Linked DNA regions of Homo sapiens: all the other regions are reported to be linked to region 3. The links are microRNA targets in miRTarBase. Many come from high-throughput screens and were not tested one by one. Region 3 holds a microRNA gene; each other region holds the end of a gene's coding sequence. Distances are between the middles of the regions.

Evidence for each region. Region 3 holds the annotated microRNA hsa-miR-665 (ACCAGGAGGCUGAGGCCCCU, at 1,011-1,030, opposite strand). A microRNA usually pairs through its seed, bases 2 to 8, with sites in the 3' UTR of a target mRNA and lowers its output. Matches are read on the target gene's strand: a 7mer-m8 pairs with bases 2 to 8, a 7mer-A1 pairs with bases 2 to 7 and ends in A, and an 8mer does both.
Region 1: miRTarBase lists DAD1 as a target of hsa-miR-665. The part of its 3' UTR that is shown has no 7-base or 8-base seed match.
Region 2: miRTarBase lists ARGFX as a target of hsa-miR-665. Seed matches in the 3' UTR shown: 7mer-m8 at 2,232-2,238, 7mer-m8 at 2,071-2,077, 8mer at 1,799-1,806 and 7mer-m8 at 1,463-1,469.
Region 4: the mRNA of TMEM86A is a reported target of hsa-miR-665. Seed matches in the 3' UTR shown: 7mer-m8 at 2,568-2,574 and 7mer-A1 at 1,093-1,099.

What each region holds. Positions count from the first base shown.
Region 1 is chr14:22,572,519-22,575,618 of GRCh38, reverse strand. It overlaps DAD1 (defender against cell death 1), which reads left to right. Exons shown (of 3, transcript NM_001344.4): 2 at 386-560. The coding sequence ends at 516. Among named protein-coding and RNA genes, the nearest start is that of DAD1, 15 kb to the left of the region's middle.
Region 2 is chr3:121,586,216-121,589,215 of GRCh38, reverse strand. ARGFX (arginine-fifty homeobox) reads right to left here. Exons shown (of 5, transcript NM_001012659.2): 5 at 1-3,000. The coding sequence ends at 2,616. Among named protein-coding and RNA genes, the nearest start is that of FBXO40, 5.7 kb to the left of the region's middle.
Region 3 is chr14:100,872,996-100,876,104 of GRCh38, reverse strand. MIR665 (microRNA 665) reads right to left here and starts at 1,072; the gene lies at 1,001-1,072. MIR337 (microRNA 337) reads right to left here and starts at 1,612; the gene lies at 1,520-1,612. RefSeq lists an enhancer at 2,264-2,433.
Region 4 is chr11:18,701,516-18,704,611 of GRCh38, reverse strand. TMEM86A (transmembrane protein 86A) reads right to left here. Exons shown (of 3, transcript NM_153347.3): 3 at 1-3,039. The coding sequence ends at 2,603. It overlaps IGSF22 (immunoglobulin superfamily member 22), which reads left to right. Exons shown (of 23, transcript NM_173588.4): 23 at 74-300. The coding sequence ends at 144. Among named protein-coding and RNA genes, the nearest start is that of IGSF22-AS1, 3.4 kb to the left of the region's middle.

The DNA of each region.
Region 1 (3,100 bases), 78 Mb from region 3:
CCGAGATCATGCCACTGCATTCCAGCCTGGGTGACGGAGCGAGACTCTGTCCCCGACTCCCCAAAAAATAAAGTTTTTGATTGTGTTGCCCAACTTACTTGTGCAATTCATCCATTTTTGTGTATAGCAGAAGTTCTTTTTCATTGCAGTATAATATTCTATTGTTTGTATATGCTATAATTTATCCATTTTACTGTTGATAGACATTAGATTGTTTCCAGTTTGGGGCTATCTGGGTATCATTTCTGTGTATGCCCTTTGATGTATATATGCATTCATTTCTGTTAGAGTAGAATTGTTGGGTCCTCGGGTATGTCTGTGTTCATTAGCATATTTATTTTATACTTCTATATAATCATTTTTTTGTGTTTTGCTTCTTGTGCAGTTTGCCTGAGAATACAGATCAACCCACAGAACAAAGCGGATTTCCAAGGCATCTCCCCAGAGCGAGCCTTTGCTGATTTTCTCTTTGCCAGCACCATCCTGCACCTTGTTGTCATGAACTTTGTTGGCTGAATCATTCTCATTTACTTAATTGAGGAGTAGGAGACTAAAAGAATGTAAGTGATGATCATAGTCCTTGTCCTATAATGTTGATTTTAGGAAGAGAAATTGGATGGGACTGGTTTTGATCATGGTTGGCCAGGCTCCCATACTGCTATTGACATTTGCAGAATTTTCCATTGGTCTGCAAAGTATGCATTAATATCATCATAATTCATCAGTGCTACTGCTCTTGGTCATTGCCTTGTCTTTCTGTTCTTCAAATCATTAAGGTAATAGAAAATTAATGTTTGTAGCTAGTACAATAATTTCTGTACCAATAACTCCACGAAAATAACTCGGAGATTTTGGAAGAGACATAAATGGTAGGTTTTGCCTTTAGATTTGTTAGTTAATTTTTTTCTGATTTTGATCTCAGATGACTTTTAATGCTGGACCATTGTTTTCATAGCACTTAAATTTGATAGCATCCAGTGTATGTTGGATGAATGACTGTGGGCATTTGCTAATATGTGCCTTAAAGTAGAAATAAATGGGGAAATTGGGTTAACTTGGGAGAAGACTTTAAAATATAAGATGGGATGCTGCTTGGTTCATTTGCCATTTTCACTTTTTTAGCAGTAGAGTTCTTTCTCCCTTCTCCCAAACAAACTCTTACAAAAAGAATCTTGGTATATAAAGCAGAAGTAGAATTGGAGTTTTTTTTGATGGACAGAAATTGAAAAGCCCTCTCTGCTTGGCCTTCATCACATATGGTACGCCCTCCCCTAAATCGCTCCCTCCCAAGCAGAGTTCTAAAGCTTTAATAAATATATGGCTGTTTTCCATACCGTATGTCAACACTGTTACTTTATATATGAGACAACAGAGGCCTAGAACAATCCATTGGCCTTCCCTGGCCACATAGTTAAGTGTTTGCAGTGAAGTGCCCTAGTCTAGCGGTGTTCTTGGCCCCGTACTCCTTCCGGTATCCCATGTAGCTTACTGATGAATGCATGCAATCTTTGCCTTTGCATTGCAAAATGTAATGTTCTGGGTGGTAGAGAAAAGAGAACCTTAGGAGATCTCATCCTATTTGGGGGAAGGATATCCTAGGACCAACCTCTTCCTGTCACCACTTGGAAAGCTGTCATTTTTATACTAACCAGCAGAAATCTAGTATAAGAGTTAGAGCATCTATGTGCAAAGTGGATGCAATAATGTGGAAGTGACTATACTTCCTTTTCTGACATGAATTAGTCATTTACTTATAATATGTTACCTAAATCCTTTCCTTTGATACTGCCTCAAAAACAGTTCTGTTAGTTCAGGTAAGGTATCATTTTGGTAGTGGTAAGTTGACAGTGAGGTTTATTTCAGTGAAAAACTTTTTTTTTTTCTTTTCTGTTTTTTTTTTTTTTTTTTTGAGATGGAGTCTCGCTCTGTTACCCAGGCTGGAGTGCAGTGGTGCGATCTCGGCTCACTGCAGACTCCGCCTCCCGAGTTCATGCCATTCTCCTGCCTCAGCCTCCCGAGTAGCTGGGACTACAGGCGCCCGCCACCACGCCCGGCTAATTTTTTGTATTTTTAGTAGAGACGGAGTTTCACCGTGTTAGGATGATCTCGATCTCCTGACCTGGTGATCCGCCCGCCTTGGCCTCCCAACAGTGAAAAACTTTTAAGAACCACTTTGTTCTGTTATTTTAATACAATTTAACTCATTAGACACCTGATTAAGACTTGAGTTATCCTCTTCCTCCCTTCCTCCCTCCCCTTCTATGTGCCAGCCAATGTCTTGTTGTTGGGAATATAAACAATATTGTTGGCTGGGCGTGGTGGTTCATGCCTATAATCCCAGCACTTTCGGAAGGCGAGGTGGGCGATTGCTTGAGCTCAAGAATTTGAGACCAGCATGGGCAACATAGCAAGACCCTATCTCAATTAAAAAAAAAAACCCAAAAGTGTGGCTTCTGCCTTCAAGACATGTACAGTCTAGTAGGGGAGAATACGTAAACATAACAGTTAAAATACAGCCCATTTAGGGCCTCGCTATAGGTTTGAACAAAGTGCTGCAAAAATCCAGAGAAGAGAGCAGCTGTACCATCTGGGAGCAGGGACAGCAGATGAGTTATCTGAGCAATGGATAACAGCTATTGCTAGTTAAAATGAACTGTTACCAGTGGATAACCTTGAATGCAGGTAGAAAACTGACCCACCAACATTGACCTTCTCACGCTTGCAAATATGAGTAACCCTTGGGCTTCCTGATAGAGCCTTCTGGAAAGGTCATGTCTTCTGATTGCTTACTCTAGATTTCTGAAGTTCTTTTTTTCTAGATGAGTCATGGTGTGTACTTAGGAAGGGGACACAGCAAACATTTCAAGGATGTTTTCTAGGCTCAGGGAGATACCAAATCATGGAAAATTATTTCTTAGGGCTGTCATGATTGGAGGAAGACTCTACTGCAGAGAGCTTAGTATTTCAAAATTATGACAAAAGCAAAGACAAAAAAGCAGTCTCAGCAGAAACTGTGTACTGCAGACCATATTAACAACCTAGGACCACCTGCTCAGCTGGGAATTATGGGCCCAAAGCATAGCAAAATCCTCAATCCCAG
Region 2 (3,000 bases), not on the chromosome of region 3:
TTTTCCAATTTTACTCATGATTTCTTCTATTTATTTATTTATTGAGACAGTATCACTGTGTTGCTCAAGCTGGAGTGCAGTGGCACAGTCACAGCTCACTGCAGCCTCGACCTCTGTGGCTCAAGGGATGCTCTTACCTCAGCCTCTCGAGTAGCTGGGACCATGGGCTCTGGCCGTCATGCCCAGCTAATTTTTTATTTTTTGTAGACACAGGGTTTTGCCATGTTGCTCAGACTGTGATTACCTCTTTAACCACTGGTTATTTAGGAATGTGTTGTTTAATATCCACATATTTGTGAATTTCCCAAATTTTATTGATTTCTAATTTCGTTCCATCATGTTTGGAGAACACACTGCATAGTTTCAATCCTTGTGATTCTCCTGCCTCAGCCTCCCAAGTAGCTGGGACTACAGGTGTGTGCCACCATGCCCAGCTAATTTTTTTTTTTTTTTGTATTTTTAGTAGAGGCAGGATTTCACCATGTTGGCCAGGATGGTCTTGATCTCTTGACCTCGTGATCTGCCCGCCTTGGCCTCCCAACGTGCTGGGATTACAGGTGTGAGCCACTGCGCCTGGCCTATTCAAAACATTTTCTATGTCCTTTTTTAAGTTTTGAAGTTTTCTCCACAGAGGTATTAATTTTTTTGTGAATTTCTAGGTACTTTTACATTTTTCATTGAGAGGTACTTATCTTATGTTTCTTTTATTTTTTATTTTTTATTTTTTATTTTTTTTTTGAGACAGAGTCTTGCTCTGTTGTCCAGGCTGGAGTGCAGTGGTGCGACCTCAGCTCACTGCAACCTCCACCTCCCAGGTTCAAGCAATTCTCCTTCCTCAGCCTCCCGAGTAGCTGGGATTACAGGTGTGTGCCACCATGCCTGGCTTTTTTTTTTTTTTTTTTTTGTATTTTTAGTAGAGACGGGATTTCACCATGTTAGTCAGGCTGGTCTCAATCTCCTGACCTCGTGATCCGCCCGCCTCGGCCTCCCAAAGTGCTGGGATTACAGGCATGAGCCACCACCCCCAGCCCTTATGTTTCTTTATTACTGGTGTTCAGAAATGGTATTAATTTTGTAGGTTGATCATGTGGCTGGAAAATATGCTAACTTGTCATTCTAAAAGTTTGACTCTTTATTTTGTGAGTTTTGCAAGTTTATCATCTCACCTTCAAAAATCTGTTTTTATTTCTTCCTGTGATAGTTTTTACACCTCTTATTATGTCTGGACCATTGTACTATATATATATATATTATTTTTTCATTGTACTATATTAAAACTAGTGGTGACAGTAATTTCCCCTCAAATTAGGACTGAAAGTCTCATTTTAAAAAAACCCAAATTCAGCCTGGGCAACAAGGCGAAACCCCATCTCCACTAAAAATACAAAAATTAGCCAGACATGGTGGCGCATGTCTGTAGTCTCAGCTACTCAGAAGGCTGAGGTGGGAGGACTGTTTGAGCCCAGGAGGCAGAGGCTGCAGTGAGCCAAGATGGTGCCACTGCACTCCAGCCTGGGTGACAGAGTGCTGTCTACAAAAAACAAATAACAAACAAAAAATGAAAAATTGGAAACAAAATGTAAGTTTATAACTTTCTGTCATTAAAAGTGGATGATAGTGTACTCACTTCCACAACACATATACTAAAATCAGAATGATACAGAGAGAAAAGTGGATGATGGTTTCTTCGGTTTCCTTGAAAAAAAGTGTTTTTAAACTAGATAACCCAGCCGGGTGCGATGGTGCACTCCTGTATTCCTAGCACTTTGGGAGGCTGTGGCAGGTGGATGGCGTTAAGTCCAGGAGTTGGAGACCAGCCTGGGCAACATGGCAAAACCTCGTCTCTACAAAAAACACAAAAATTGGCCAGGCTCGGTGGCTCATGTCTGTAATCCCAGCACTTTGGGAGGTCAAGGCAGGCGGATCACTGGAGGTCAGGAGTTCAAGACCAGCCTGGGCAACGTGGTGAAACCCCGTCTCTACTAAAAATACAAAAGTTAGCCAGGCATGGTGGCACACGCCTGTAATCCCAGCTACTCAGGAGGCTGACACAGGAGAATCACTTGAACCCCAGGAGGTGGAGGTTGCACTGAGCTGAGATCCCGCCACTGCACTCCACCCTGGGTGACAGTGCGAGACTCAGTCTCAAAAAAAAAAAATTAGCCAGGTGTGGTGGCGAGCATCTGTAGTCCTAGCTACTCAGGAGGCTGAGGTGGGAGGATCACCTGAGCCCAGGAGGTCAAGGCTTTTGTGAGCCGTGACTGTACCACTGTATTCCAGCCTGGGTGACAGAATGAGAGCTAGTTTCAAAAAAATAAAAGTGGATAACCCCCAAAACCACTGTCCTACTTTTAGAAAATCCAAGATAGTTTTGGGAAGGGAATTTTGGAGTCTCATTGGCCATGAAAGGGACTAGGCAGGCTTCTCAGGGAGACTTGTGGGGCTGATTACGTAGTGCCCAGCTCTACTTGGAAAACTCTTTTTGCAACATTTACATGGAAATCAGAGACACAGACCCAGATGTTGGGTTAAAATGAGACAAAGGAAAAAAACAGTCATGTACAAGAGGCAAGAAGACCACTTTTCTAAATGATCTATATTTATTAGTACTCTGGTCAGAGAAATCCCAAGTCTACCATATTGGAGGTTTTCTGGAATTCCAGGCTATCTGTTAGACTGTAGGCTTCAAAGGCTTGGCTTGTCATATTGGGCCAGGTTTGTGCAGGAGATAGGCCTACAGCTGGACCAGCAAAGATGCTGAGAGAGGAACCCTGTCCTCCTACCTGGTACTTTGTGGGTGAGAGATACTGATACAGACAGTGGAAAGAAGAGCTGGATATCTCATTCTCATCAGGAAGATTGTACAGTTCTATGATTTGGAATATGTCATAGGCATCAGAGTACAAAGCAGGAACCGAGGCCACCAGCCTCTCCCACTGAGTATCTTGCATTTGGAAGTCACTGGTAGAACTCTCAGTGAAGGTAGAGTTCCATGCCCAA
Region 3 (3,109 bases):
CCTTGGACTCAGGCCCCCGTGCCAGGAGCTTGACCAGCTCTTAACAATCTGCCCAGGGCAGAGACGTGAGGTCCCCTCCTGCCCACCTGGTGACCCCGGTTGCTCCCAAAGTGAAAAAGAGAAAGACAACAAATAGAAGCCATCACCCCCACTCCCAAGCTCCACCCACCCGCTCAGAGCCCTGCTGCGGGGACGACAAGACCCTTGTCATGCCCCAAGCCCATGAGCACTGACCTCAGACCCAAACAGTAAGCCTCGTCCAGACCCCTGTCCACCTGTCTGAGATCAACAAAGACAAGCATACCCATCCTGACACCACAGAAGCTGAGGGGTAGACCAGGAAGGGAGCGGGTGCATGGGGGAAGCGGGGGTGAGGAAGGGGAGACGGGAGGTGGGAAGGAAGGGCAGGGGAGAGGGTGCTCCCTCCTGCAGGAAGGGAGGGGGTGCATTGGGGAGGAGGGGTGAGAAAGGGAAGATGGGAGGTGAGTGGGAAGGGCAGAGGTGAGGGTGCTCCCTCCTACAGGAAGAAGGGGTGCATGGGGAAGGAGGGGTGAGGAAGGGGAGATGGGATGTAAGTGGGAAGGGCAGAGGTGAGGATGCTCCCTCCTGCACCCTCTTGTCCTCTCTAATGGCCTCAGCTACTGCAAGGCCTCTCTCCCCACACTGGCTGCCCTGCTGCCCCGATGCTCATGCCTGGGCTGGCTGTCGTGGCTTGTTAATGGGGTTAATGATGCCAATATCACAGGGCTTGGTGCGGGTCACCTCTGCCATGCACAGGACCTGAGTTAGTCAGAGAGGCAGAAGACAGAGGTCCAAGAACCAGGGGCCACGGCCGTGCCCCCTGCTCATGTTGCCATTGGGCACCCTCAGGTACCCAGCCTGAGCAGGGTACGCACAGGGGAAGAAGGGAGCCCAGCTGACAGCTTCTGGGGACCCAGAGTTGGGAATCCTTGGGGAGAGGGGAAATGTCTCCAGAACAGGTTTAAGGAGAGAGTAAGAAGCCGCCTGTGAGGGGCCTCAGCCTCCTGGTCATGAAAGAGTCCTGGGTAGAGGCAGAGACCCCTCGAGGAGACCCTCCTCTTGGGGCACAGAAAGGGCCAGCCCTGGTCCGCCAAAGCCCCACCCCCTCCACCCTGGGCACAAAGGGGCACCATCTCTCCAACGTCTGTCCATCCATCCTGTGGGCCGGGTCCCTTTGGAGGGCTCTGTGTGGGAGCACAGCCCCAGCCCCTCAGTGGGAGAAGCCCCAGGGCTACCCAACTCCCCCTCCGGCCTATCTGCCCTTGGCTGTGGAGTCAGCCCAGGGGGTGTCCCACCAGGGGCATAGTTCCCTGCCAAGGAGGGGCCTCAGAGATGGCCCAGCCCCAGGCCCTCCCCTCCAGGAAGTCAGAGAGCTGCAGAAGAGAGAGAGAAGAGCCCAAGGAGCATGCCGGGAAGAGGCTGGCAGGACAGCAGCGGACTTGAGGACGCGTCCCCGTGCAGCCAAGGGTGCAGAGGAGGGTCCGGGGGCTGCGCGTGGTTGAAGGGGATGAAGAAAGGCATCATATAGGAGCTGGATAACTGTGCATCAACTCCTGTATGAAGCCGTTCCCACCCCCCAACTACTGACTACGGGCCGCAACCCTCCTCCCGGAAGCGCAGTGCAAGCGCTCGGATGGCAGAGGGGACGCCTGCTGCTAGTGGTTAGAGCAGTGACAGCAAGGGACAGCCAGCCTAGGCAGTGCCACCCACTGCTGGGCACCTGCAGCGCTGGGGTACCTGTCCACCCTGCCCAGCCTTGCCCTACCTGCCTCCTATGGCCAGGGCCTGGGCCTCCCTTAGCCCCACAGAGCCCCCAGGTGACTGTGCAGCCAGGCCAAGGGACGGAGGATGGGGAGGTGAAGGGGGAGACAGGCCTGATTCTGGCCCAGGTCTGTGAGTGGACATCGGGGACTCGACCCCACCCACCCACTGCTTTGACTCCCTGGTACTTCTCCAGCCTTGCCTTCTACATCTGTGAAATGGGTTGCAACAGGCACCTCTGGGGACCCAGTGAGGACTCATGAAGTCCAGGGGCACTTCAAGAATTTCCCAGAGACAGAAAGTAGATTTTTGGTTGCTGAGGGCTGGGGGGTGTGCATGGAGGGTGAAGGTGACAGCTGAAGGCTCTGGAGTTCTTTTGGGGGTGATGAAAATGATCTTAAATTGATTATGGTGATAGTTGCAGATATCTGTGAATAACTAAAACACACTTCGCTGTGAGCTTTAATGGGCGGATTGTGTGTATGTGGATTACATCTCAATAAAGTTGTACCCCAAAACACCTTCCTTTGTTCTTTGACATCTTTCTCAACCACCATACTGCCTGCCTCGTCCTACACTCTCCAGCCATCCACACCACCAACACACATGCACAGGGACACGCAGCCAGGCACGTGGTAGGTGGTGCAAAAATATCTGTGAGTAAATGACCTGATAATATAACATTCTCTGAAAGAGCCCATGGAGGGAAACCTTTAGGGAAAGGGGTTAAAGATTAAGAAGTAGGGGTGGCAGGAGGGTATGGAGGTGGGAAAGAGGCTCAGAGTGACACATGAATGGAAAAGGGGCTCAGATTGACAGACACATGGAGGGAGGAGGGGCTCCCTGTAACACATGGGTGGAGGAGGGGGCTGGTGTGACACACGGGTGGGGGAAGAGCTCCATGGGACACATGGGTGGAGGAGGGGGTTGGTGTGACCCATGGGTGGAGGAGGGGGCTGGTGTGACACATGGGTGGGGGGGGTTAGTGTGACACATGGGTGGAGGAGGGGGCTGGTGTGACACACGGGTGGGGGAAGAGCTCCATGTGACGCATGGGTGGAGAGGGGGTTGGTGTGACACATCAGTGGAGAGAGGGTTGGTGTGACACATGGGTGTGGAGAGGGGCTCCATGTCACATAAGTAAGGGAGGGGCTCAGGGCAATGCATGAGTGGGGGGAAGGTCTCTGGGTGATGCATGGGAAGGGGAGGACTTCAAGTGACATGTGAGAGAAGCTCAGGTGACACATTAGTAGGGAAAAGGCTCCTCATGACACATGAGTGAAGGAGAGGTGGAATGTGAGACAGAAAAGGGGCTCAGTGTGACGTG
Region 4 (3,096 bases), not on the chromosome of region 3:
GAAGTCCAGCAGTTTGGAATTTCCCTGGTCGCCAGCATCATTAATATAACGAATACTTCCTTTGCTCTTTCAGACAAAGATGATAAGTCAGTTGTAGCATCCATCACCGAGAGTCTGCAGAAGAAATCAAAGCACCTCATGTGAGCTCCAGCCAAGCCCAGGCATCAGGAGGCTGTTATGATGTGGAGTTTCTTGGCCTGTCCTCTGCATGGCCCAGTGTAGGAAGCCCAGTTTGCTCTCTGGTGTTTGTTAATGTAAACATTCAGTGAAGGGATGGGGCAATAAACGTAACTCATCCTTTCCCGTTCCTGAGGGTGATATACAGCAGGGACCAAGGGGATGGATGTGATTGCATGATAGGGAATCCCAGACCTGGACCCCTGAAAGCCTAGTCCAAACCCACCCACAAGGCAGTGACCAGCCTTCTTGTGACTGGGCCTGGTCTTCCCTTCCCCTCCTCCACATCTACATGGCACTTTCCCCCTCCCCTCAGAGCTTGGGGGCAAGTCCTGCTGACTTCATCCTGCTCTCCATCCTGCTCCCTCCCATTTCTTCACACTAGGTAGGTCTGTGTTCAGAGTTCTGAAGTTTGAAAGGATCAAGATCTTCCCTCTTTAGTGTCCAGGGTTCAGAGCTAGAAGGGATTGATCATCCAGCTCACTAAGTTTCAAACTTACGTTTTTCAGTGGAATCCTTCCAAAACAAAACAAAACAAAAAAAAACACAACCTAAGAAGCTACTGGACTTGAAATAAGGATAGGAGGTCTTTGAGCCTGCCTTCTCTCATTATTCCTTCACTACCCCCTTACCAGGAATCTCTGTAAAAACTAATTTGGAAATCACTGACTCATCCAACCACCCCTGAGACTTGAGTCTCCTAAATCACATCCCCACAAATGAGCAACACCTCTACTGATGGCATATCCACCACCACCCAAGGCTTCCCTTTCTACTTCTGGGTTAGGGCATTGTCTGTTAAGTTACAAATGCTCCTGGAGCAGAGTGATGTATTATTCTGCCAGGGCTTTACAACTAATGAATGAATCAGCCAATCTAATCCCATTGCTCCCAGCTGTTCAACTAAGCCCAGAGTCCAGGATGAGGGAGATGCTTGAAGGGAATCTGGATCATTTTGAAGGAAGCAGCAGGTCTCAAGTGGGGAGGGGAGGAGGTGGGCAGCAATAGATGACACTGGGTAACTAAAGGTCACCAAGGGTGCTGGGCACCTGTGCACAGGGGAGTACATCAAGGACAAATTTGGACAGTGGCAAATACCACTCATCCCCCATCCTCCTAAACCACATCCTCACCCACACCAGGGAAGTGAGACACACTCCAACCGGCACAGTGTCACCAGAGCCAGGTAGCCAGCCTGGCACCAAGATGCACTGCCCAGGACTGTGACTAGGCTGTGAGGACAGCCAGAGCCTCTGGCACCATGCCCCCATGCCCTCTCCAAGATAGGCATGTGCCACACAGGCCCACAAGCAGGGCAGCCAATGGCTCTTGATTTTTATTATTTTTCACATGGGCAGCAGAAGATGGAGTTGTCCCATCCTTGCTCCCCTTGCATTGAATGTGCCTTGGGTCTTAAAACCCCGGAGTGTCATTGGAGCCCCCTCCTCTTGCTCCTAGTGTAGGAGGGACAAGGAGGAAAGCACTGTGAGTATGTGTGTTGGAGGGGAGGGGTCCCAGCTCCCTGAGCCAGGCTCAGCACCCCTCAGCAGCTCCCTGAGGCCCTCTCTCTGTGAGACTTTTGACAGACAGCAGGACAGAAACATATAGCAGAGAAAGACATAGGCAGACTAGGAGACAGGCTACACACACACACAGAGAAGCTGGCCCCTTCCTTTGGCATGGTTCACCCTAGCCCTGGGGATAGGATCTAAGGGTAGCGTATGGGACCTGAGCTTTGGGCTTGCCCGAGAGAGAGATGGGGCTACTTGAATTCTTGAGACCCCAAACTCCGAGACCAAAGAAGTTCTCTCTCCTGCCTAACCTGGACCCACACCTCTTCATGTCCCCACCCACCACTTAGAGACTGAGATTGTTCAAGTAACAAGGATAGAAGAGGGAAAAGAAACGGAGGCTCCACTCTCATCCAGTCTTCCCAACTAGGGGCCTGTGAAAGGGGCTCCTGGGTCTGAGTCTTCTCAGCACAGATTCTCCCGTTTCCCTCAACTTTGTGCAGATGAAAAAGGGGAGGAGTGGGTGAACCCAGCACTGCCATTGGTCCTAGGCATAACACATGGAGTCAGACTCTTCCACCTGGTAGGGGAAGTGGGTGGGGGGGTGTCAAGAAGCTGAGCACCATCACCTTCCAGGGGGGTTTTGAAAGTCCTGATAGGGTAGAGGTGGGGAGATGTCTACTTCTGGCTCCAGTCTGATATTAGGCTGGCTCTTTTAGCTCTCAGCATTGTCCTGAACCACGAGTTCTGCTAGGGAGATCCTTTTCCAGCCTCCCCACACGAACTTGCAAATTCCTCAGGCAGTACCTGCTGCCCCAGGCTGGCACTGCAGCCATCCTGATCCAGCTCCTGCAGGTCCCCAGGATCTGGGCCCCAGCCCCAGGAGGAGAGAGGGGTGACCAGACCCTGGCACCTCAGTTGGCCTTGGTCAGTCTGTAGTGTTCCACAGGCTCCCGGCTTTCGACAGCTGACAAGGCGACGAGCATCTGGGCCACATAGTAGGTGGACATGATAAGCGCCCGAGAGTAGGGCACAGGAAAACAGAATTTGTTGAGGGCGATGGTCAGGTCTGAGATGATAAAGAAGAGTGCACCACTGCCAGCTGCCAGCTCTGTCCAGCGCCAGTCTGCCCCGGCCAGCCGCAGCCCTGCCATAGCTCGCCAGCCCATGAAGCCGATAAGGGCCACATAGACCCCCACCAGGTAGGTGAAGGCACCTGAGAGGCATGGGTAGAGGAGGGCATAGCACAGGCCCGACAGCGCTGCCATCACCAGACCTGTCCGAAGAGCCAGTGGCTGCATGCCAAAGGCCGAGGCGTAGAACATGTGGGTCACAGCAAACATCAGCAGACCTGGGGGTAAGAGGGGCAAAGGCAGCTGAGGGCAAGCTTGATGAAGAATGAGTAACA